Linked DNA regions of Homo sapiens: region 1 is linked to region 2. Evidence: fine-mapped expression QTL. A gene starts in region 2. The other region holds a variant in brackets. All regions are shown on one strand. Distances are between the middles of the regions. Region 1 has its middle 13 kb from the start of RSPO1. Region 2 holds the start of MTF1 (metal regulatory transcription factor 1).

What was found. PIP is the estimated chance that this variant, and not a neighbour inherited with it, causes the effect. A credible set is the group of variants that fine-mapping cannot tell apart.
Region 1: its variant is the best candidate, but not a certain one, in a credible set for the expression of MTF1 in prefrontal cortex (ROSMAP, PIP 0.51).

Annotation. Positions count from the first base shown.
Region 1 is chr1:37,645,805-37,650,195 of GRCh38, forward strand. No RefSeq gene overlaps it. Among named protein-coding and RNA genes, the nearest start is that of RSPO1, 13 kb to the left of the region's middle. The variant G/A (reference allele first, on the strand shown) is at 1,703.
Region 2 is chr1:37,856,879-37,861,227 of GRCh38, forward strand. It overlaps MTF1 (metal regulatory transcription factor 1), which reads right to left and starts at 2,714. Exons shown (of 11, transcript NM_005955.3): 1 at 2,653-2,714; 2 at 373-831. The coding sequence starts at 780. It overlaps INPP5B (inositol polyphosphate-5-phosphatase B), which reads right to left. Exons shown (of 24, transcript NM_005540.3): 24 at 3,819-4,349. RefSeq lists a silencer at 2,651-2,980.

The sequences.
Region 1 (4,391 bases), 210 kb before region 2:
CCATTCTCCTGCCTCAGCCTCCCAAATAGCTGGAATTTCAGGCACCCACCACCATACCTGGCTAATTTTTGTATTTTTAATAGAGACGGGGTTTTACCATGTTGGCCCAGCTGGTCTCAAACTCCTGACTTCAGGTGATCCACCCGCCTCAGCCTCCCAGAGTGCTGGCATTACAGGCATGAGTCACCACACCTGGCCAAGAATTCACTTTAGTCCTAGCCTTTTATACTTGTTGTTTTACTTTGTGCTCACGACAACGCTGTGAGCATTGGGGTACATTATTATCCCCATTGTACAGACAAGGAGATAGAGGGCTTGGCCAATTAAGCAGCTCCCCTAAGGTGGCCCAGACTCCAGTGGCAGCCTCTGGGTTTGGATCCACATCTGTGTGAACTGTTTTTTGTTTTTTGTTTTTTTTTGAAATAGAGTCTCGCTCCATCTCCCAGGCTGGAGTGCAGTGGCGCGATCTCGGCTCACTGCAAGCTCCGCCTCCCGAGTTCACGCCATTGTCCTGCCTCAGCCTCCCGAGTAGCTGGGATTACAGGCACCTGCCACCACGCCCGGCTAATTTTTTGTATTTTTAGTAGAGACAGCGTTTCACCGTGTTAGCCAGGATGGTCTCGATCTCCTGTCATCGTGATCTGCCCACCTCGGCCTCCCAAAGTGCTGGCATTACAGGCGTGAGCCACTGCACCCGGCCTGTGTGAACTGTTAATACCACCCGGCTCAGCCTTGTCCATGGTTAGTGCCGTAAACTCGACTTCTTTTTGCAGTGCTGCTCTGAGTACTTTTCAAGGCTTTTTGTCCACACTGCAAACATGCTCTGCAGCCTCCGAAACAGTGTCCAGCCTGTAGTATGTGCCTGATAAATATCAAACTAATGACTGAAAACAGTGGCAGTATACGAGCTTGCCTTTTTCACTATGATAGTACCTACACTGGGGATTCTCGATAAAGAAAAAAGACAGAAATGTTATTGTTACTTTAATTTGCACTTCTGCCGGGTGTGGTGGCTCACGCCTGTAATCCCAGCACTTTGGGAGGCCAAGGTAGGGGGATCTCTTGAGGCTCGAAGTTCAAGACCACCCTGGCCAACATGGCAAAACTCTGTCTCTACTAAAAATACAAAAGTTAGCCGGGCATGGTGGTGGGTGCCTGAAATCCCAGCTACTCAGGAGGCTGAGGCAGGAGAATCACTTGAACCTGAGAGGCGGAGGTTGCAGTGAGCCGAGATTGTGCCACTGCACTCCAGCCTGGGCAACAGAGTGAGACTCTGTCTCAATAATAATAATAATAATAATAATAATAATAATAATAATAATAAAATAATAATTTGCACTTCTTTGATTATCGATGAGATGAAATATGTTTTACAAATACCCACCACTACATATGTATAATTTCTGGCTTGTAGATTTTGCTATCCATATTATTTGCCCTCATTGTCTATATCACGAGACCCCATTAATGTACTGGGGTCTCTGTGGGGTTTTTACCCCTTAAGTTGTGTAAGATTGTTATATGGCAAGAATATTAACTATTTGCTTGTCGTGTTAATTGTAACTATTTCCTCCAACCTGTTGTTTGCTTTTTATCTGAGATTACATTATTCCATCCCACAGGATTCCTAAGTATGCATCCATTCTCCCGGGTAAACCACGAGTCTCAAAAAGTAGGCAGCAGGCTGGACCCGGTGGCACAC[G/A]CATGGAATCCCAGCGCTTTGGGAGGCCAAGGCAGGAAGTTGCTTGAGGCCAGGAGTGCAAAACCAACATGGCGAGACTCTGTCTGTATAAGAAATAAAATAAATTATCCAGGTGTGGTGGTGTGTACCTGTTGTTCCAGTTACTTGGGAGGCTGAGGTGGAAGGATCACTTGAACCTAGGAGGTGGAAGATCCATAGCCTGGGTGACAAAGCAAGACCCTGTCTCAAGAAAGAAAAAAAAAGTAGGTAGCAACTGTATCTTGGGCTTCTTCTCTTTCAGATCTTTGTCAGAGGTCTGACCACAAAGTCATGTCTTTTATTTTTTTGAGATGGAGTTTTGCTCTTGTTGCCCAGGCTGGAGTGCAATGGCACAATCTTGGCTCATTGCAACCTCTGCCTCACGGGTTCAAGCAATTCTCCTGCCTCAGCCTCCCGAGTAGCTGGGATTACAGGCATGTGCCACCATGCCCAGCTAATTTTGTATTTTTAGTAGAGACGGGGTTTCACCATGTTGGTTAGGCTGATCTCGAACTCCCGACCTCAGGTGATCCACCCGCCTTGGCCTCCCAAAGTGCTGGGATTACAGGTGTGAGCCACCATGCCCAGCTGTTTTGTTTTGATTTTTGAGACAGGGTCTCGCTCTGTCGCCAGGCTGGAATGCAGTGGTGTGATCACAGCTCACTGCAGCCTCAACCTTCCAGGCTCAAGCCATCCTCCCACCTCAGCCTCTCAAGTAGCTGGGACTACAGGCTCATAGTCCACCATATCCGGCTAATTTTATATTTTTTGTAGAGACAGGGTTTTGCCATGTTGCCCAGGCTGGTCTCGAACTCCTGGACTCAAGCAATCCTCCTGCCTCGGCCTCTCAAAGTTCTGGGACTATGGACATGAGCCACCTCACCCAGCCACAAAGTAGATTTCTAATAAAGTTTTCTCCAGGCTCACATAACAAAAGTGCACTTGATGGACACTGTCACTTCTTTTGAGCAAAGTCTCACCAAGATAGAAAGTATCACCATTTCCATTTTGCTGATGAGAAAACAGAGGCACATAGAGGCTAAGCGACTTGCCCGTGAGCACACTGATTGTAGTGGTCAAGCCTGGATTTATATCCTGTGCTTCCTCCATCATGTGGAGTTGCTGGGGGTAAAGCCCAGGTCAGTGACAGGCAGCTGGTACAAGTCTCAAGCCCCTTTTCCTTGCTAAGCTGTTGTTCTGCCCAGTGTCTAAGAGAGAGAGAGAGAGAGAATAAGTGTGTCTATGTGTTGCATAGGATGAGGGGAAGCAGTTGGACTGAGACTGCATTGTGGAAGGCCTTGGATGCTGAGCCAGAGTCAGACTTCATTCTATAGAATATGTAGAATAAGCATACTCAGATTCCCCACCACATCCCCTCCCCTTCCCAGAAAACAAGAACCAACTTCACCCTGACTGTGGAGCCCATAACTGGGAAGCCTCACACCCTGAGCACTTGAGGTGGCCGAGCTGGAAGGGCCTTGAGAAACACCTGACCATCAGCTCTCATCTACCTCAATGAGGAGGGACCCAGGCCCAGTGAGGGGTGGTGACTCAGCCAAAGTCACACTACAACTTAGGGATTAGAACCCAGGTGTCCAATGCCCAGCTGAAGACCCTATCTTCTAATCACCCAGCCCCTCTAAACACAACCAGGGTATCTGTGAGCTAGCATGGAAGCACTTATTCGCTCATCCGCTTATTTCATTTATTCAATTAATATTTCTTCCTTTTTTATCATCTCTGAGAAGCTGTGGCTATTCAGTTAATATTTATTGAGCACACTGAGGCACAAGAACACATGACAGTTTCTACTTGTAACCATGGGACTTGTGTAGTCACTGAGCCTCTAAGATGTGATACTCCCATGCCAGGACAGCTGCACACACACACACACACACACACACACACACACACACACGGAGTAGCTGTGGTCATCTGGGCCTGCTCAAGAGTGCAGTGGTCAGAGCAAGGGCTTTACAGCCAGACAGGCCCAGCTCTGCCACTTACCTGGCTGTGTGACATTGAGCAAGTCACTTAACCTCTCTGAGTCTCAGCTGAAAATCATGTAACATGGTGATAATAATTATACCTGCCTCATAGAGTTATGATGAGAATAACAGGTAGAAATTCATTTATTCCGCATATATTTATTGAGCTCTTACCATGTGCTAGGCACTAAGGTTACAGCAGTGAACAAAACAGAATAATCTCCGCCCTCATGGAGTTTACCTTCTGGTACATGCATGCTAACTTGTGGCCCTGATGCAGTGTCTGGCACACAGTAGATGCTCAATAAATGGTTATTTCTCACCTTCTCCTCCCACCCAGCAGTAGGTCGTGGGTGAGAAGCCAGGTGGGAGCCTCTTTCTTCTCTCCCGCTTCCATCTGCAGTTCTCGACTCCAGCCCCAGTACCTCACAGAAGCCTCTGGCTCCTCCTTCAAGAGTAGGAAGAGGGTGGGCAAAAAGCTGCAAACACTGTAGATGAGCAACAGGTAAAACGCAGTAGTAGCAGTGCTGCCCTTGGCCTTGGGGATTTGATAGGAAAACTGAAGGAGGCTGGTAAAGCAAGAGGGTGGTGTCTGGGATTCTGCCCCTCCTTGTGCAGGCAAGGCTTCCTCCCACTGAGGTGAAGGCCTAAAGAGGAGTGTTTGCCAGAGAAGGGAATTCCTG
Region 2 (4,349 bases):
CAGGAGATAAGCCAAATATAGTTATTTCTTCATCAAATAAGCAAACTCCAGTTATTTCCCTGTAGATAAGCTAAATAGTTATTTTAGCACCAGAAACATGGGTCTACTTAAGTGAAATTTCTGTTTTATTTATGATTTGGGGAAGGAAATTCGAGAAATTACAATTTGATATTCCCAAATTTCAATGTGGCTATACAAACCAAAAGTTCCAGAAGCAATCACAACAAAACCTGAGGCATATGTTGTTGATAGCAAAACTACTTAAGTCCTAACCCCATGCACTCCTTTACTCCCCAGCTAAAATTTGCACCAAGAATTTTGTAAGGACTTGCCCCAAAACCAAACTAGGCCCTCACTGACTGCTTTACTTACTTCTTTACGTTTTGTTTCCGGACATTCCGACTGCAGAGTGAGGGTTGCACCTTCAATATTTCTTGGCATGGGTGTGGAACCAGGGTTTATTGTCAAATGAATCTGATCTGGTGAGATAATGTGCTGCACATAACCCTGGGACATTGCTTCATGATCTATCAGGTGAAAGCCCTCTTCACCCCCTACTAGAAAAGGCAAGTGTTCTCCGCACTGTCCGTCGTCATCTTCATCCTCCAAAGTGCCAGGGTCCTGCTCAATAAGAACAGTGGTCCTATCATAAACAGTTCCAGATGAGGAAGGCACCAGTCCGTTTTTATCCACAAACCTGAGCATTTTATCATCGGGGGTCAGCTCATCTTCCTCTGCCTCAAAGTAGATGATGTTGTTGTCTGGACTGTGTTCCCCCATGGTTCAGTTGTGCTCAGCCCAGTTGTGAGAAATGAAAACGTAATGACTTGTCTGCAACAGAACAAAGCCAGAGTTAGAGTCATACCACAAGACCGACGGACCTCCTCAGCAACCACAAGGCTCATTTTCCCTCTCACTTAAAGAGCAAGCCAAAGCAAATGAAAAACCATCCTTGGGAATAATTTTTTTATTTTAACTTTAAAACCATCAAGTCATTTTTAAAGAAAAGCAATGCCGACTGGGCGTGGTGGCTCACACCTGTAATCCCAACACTTTGGGAGGCTAAGATGGGAGGATCGCTTGAGGCCAGGAGTTTGAGATCAGCCTGGTCAACATAGTGAGACCCCCATCTCTAATAAAAAAAAAAAAAAAAGAAAAAGAAAGAAAAGCAATGCTTTTCAAAAACTGAATAAGTTCATAAGACCTTCTGAATACGCCTGTCAAACAATTTGAAACTTGGTCAAAATATTTAAAGGGGACAAAAGAGCAAACAGAACAGCAGCTGCTGAAAGGCTGAGTTGCTACAAATCTTAAGGGAAACTCCATCCATTCAAATATCCTCCAAATCAGACCACGAGGCAGTAAATGGTTTCATGCAGTTTATGGTAGAAGGAGCAAGGCTTTGGAGGCAGAGTCATCTACCTACAAATCCTGTCTTTGCCTTTTACTACATGGGTAACTTTTCTGTGCCTCATTTTTCTTACGTGCAAGGTGGGACCAGTAATTCCTGTTCTCTCAAAGTTTTTATAAGAAATAAAAGAGGCAACATATGTAAAGCACAATGTTTGGTAAATAGTAGAGGAACAAGTATGAATTCCTTCCCCCCTACCTAGAACAGATGTTTCAACCTTCTGGGTGGAAGGGCTATTCCTCAATCAGGCACAAACAACGAAGATCACTGTATCTATTTATGTCCTAAAACAATATGGTGTCAACAAGAAGTTATGGTTCTGTGGTGGGCTCTCGTCCCTGAATCAATTGAGTCTTATTATTTTTGTTTCTACAGCTCCTAGCATAGTACACTGATACTATGATAAGAGTTCAGGAAATGTCAGCTAAATGACTGAAAGACATGGCTACCTACTCTCTCGTGAAGATATACTATCTTGGGAAGATACATTCTCTTGAGAAAAATACCACATTTGAAGCTTTCATGTTCTGGAATAGTGATTCTTCCTTCATCTGCAAACACAGGCTCTACAAATGTGGGTTTGGCAGGCAGAATAGAGAATTTTAAAATAATCAGCACATCCCTTTTAGTTTTCAGTCTGGCTTTGCGCTTTATCTTTCTCTTCTGCTCTGGGTTAGAAAGTGAGCCTTTACTTAGTGGGATGGCTAGACAGTTACCAGAGACAGGCCAAAGGATTGGATCCGGGAGGTACCGGCCCGACCCCTAGCTCTGGCTTACGCAACCCCACAGATGTACATTTCGCTGCATCTGAGCAGAGAGAGAAGAGCACCGAGGGCCCCAGTGGGCTGCCCCGGCACCCTCGGCGGCAACGCGGAGACCAACTGTCCGAAACAAACAAGACCAGGAGGTTTGAGGGTAGCCAACGAGGAGTGCGAACAGAGCCCCCTTGAGAGGAGGCTGGGAAAAGGAACCTGTCTGGGATAGCCCCCAGCACAGGGCTACACAGAAAAATCCGAAGACAAGCTGGGGGTCTCCAAGCAAGGAGGAGAGGGGCAGGGTCCGGGTCTCCATGGAAACAGGGAAGGGGGGCTGGATACCCATCCCCATGGAAACGGAGAAGGGGTGGGGTCCCTATGGTGACCAAACTGAGGTCTCTATTGGGAAATGCTTCAGGAGGGAGCCTAAGTCCCGCGCCTCCCGGTAAGTCCCAAGCCCAGGCCGAGTCTAGTTTCGCCTTTTACCTCCGCGGCTCCCGGCAACGGCGGCAGCAGCAGCTTCTCCCCTCCCCAGCGGCACCATGATTGCCCCCACCTTCCCCTAACGTCACTTCCGCTTCCTCTTTCCGGAGGAAGGTGGGGACAGAGGATCCGCCCCTCCCTGGCGCCTCTGGTTGGCTCAGGTTGTCAGGGGGCTGAGCTGCAGCCTCCAATTGGCGAGCGGGGCACCGAGGGGAAGGCGCCCAGGAGGTGGGTTCATCCGCGTGGGGAAGCGCCCGGGGTGGCCACGCGGGGCCCGGAGGGTGTCGCCCTCGCGGCACCGGAGTCAAGGAGAAGGGAACGAATCCCCAAGGAAGAATCCGAAATGTCCTCAGCCAGGTTTGCGCTGACCGCCCTCGCCCTGGCAGCCACAGCCGCAGCGGGAAGGACCACAGTTGGCAGTCAGAACCCTGGCTCCAACCCGCCAGGGGAGCCTGGACGGCCGCGACGTTCCCGGGTTTCTCCTGCCGGGACCCCGGCCTTCCCTTCAGCACCCATCAAAGTTAACACAGGCAGGAGGCCCAGAAAGGAAGACAAGACCCCAAAGGCAGAACTAAGAGTATTCTAAGCCCAGCTGGAGAGGACGCCGCCGCCTCTTCCCCTTCTCACGCGCTTGCCTAGGACCCCCAGCTCCCTTCTCACGCGCTTGCCCAGGCTGGCGGTCCCAACTTTCTTCCCCTGCAAGAGGACGCGGCTACGGCGGGACTCATGCCCGGGCCAGTTAGCGCCACCTACCGGCCACTCCCTTCCTTTCACCGTTCACATTGTCCTGCTGGCCCGCGTCTTAAACCCATTTCACAGTGCCCAGAAGTAGTGGGCATTCGTACCCAGGAAGCGATTCTGCCTTCGTTATGCCCCTGTCCTTTCCAAATGCCTGGAGGATCTAGCTGTTAGATCCTCCCAGCTGCCACTGCCTGTTTTAACCATAAGCTGCTTCTCTCGAATATTCAGAGTGGGACAACTCCAAAGACCAGACCAGGGGTCAAGGGGTTCAGGTCAGTGCCATAACCATTTCTTGCTGGAAGTATGTGAATAGTGACTGGTACCCACCAGACTGCCAGGAATATGTCTCTTTGGCCCCAAGGCTTGAGCCACAAAATCCAGCTGCAGCGAACTGCCATCTCTTAAGACATAAAAACATACACAACCGCCACTGTTAAAAATACATTTATCATTAAAATATATTACACATGGAGACAGGATGCATCATATACAGTTTGGAAGACTTGCTGGCCCAGAAAATCCCACTTGTTTCACCGAACACTCATTTTTTCAGTGATTTTACATTTTATTTTTAGAGACGGGGTCTCCCTCTCTCACCCGGGCTGGCGTACAGTGATGTGGTCATAGGTCACTGCAGCCTCAAACTCCTGTGCTCAAGTGAGCCACCCACGTCAGCCTCCCAAGTAACTGGGACCACAGGCATGCATCACCACACCCAGCTAATTTTTTAAAAATGTTTTTGTAGAGAGGGGGTCTCCCTGTGTTGCCCAGCCTGGTCCCAAACTCCTGGTCTCAAGTGATGCTCCCACCTCAGTCTCCCAAAGTGCCGAGATTACAGGCGTGAGCCACTGTGCCTGGTCATTTTAATTTTTTAAATGCCTGTATTGCCCTCAGAGGCTGAGCAACCAGCCTCAGAGTTATTGAGCCATTATCTGGGCAGGAACGGGGGTCGAGTTTGC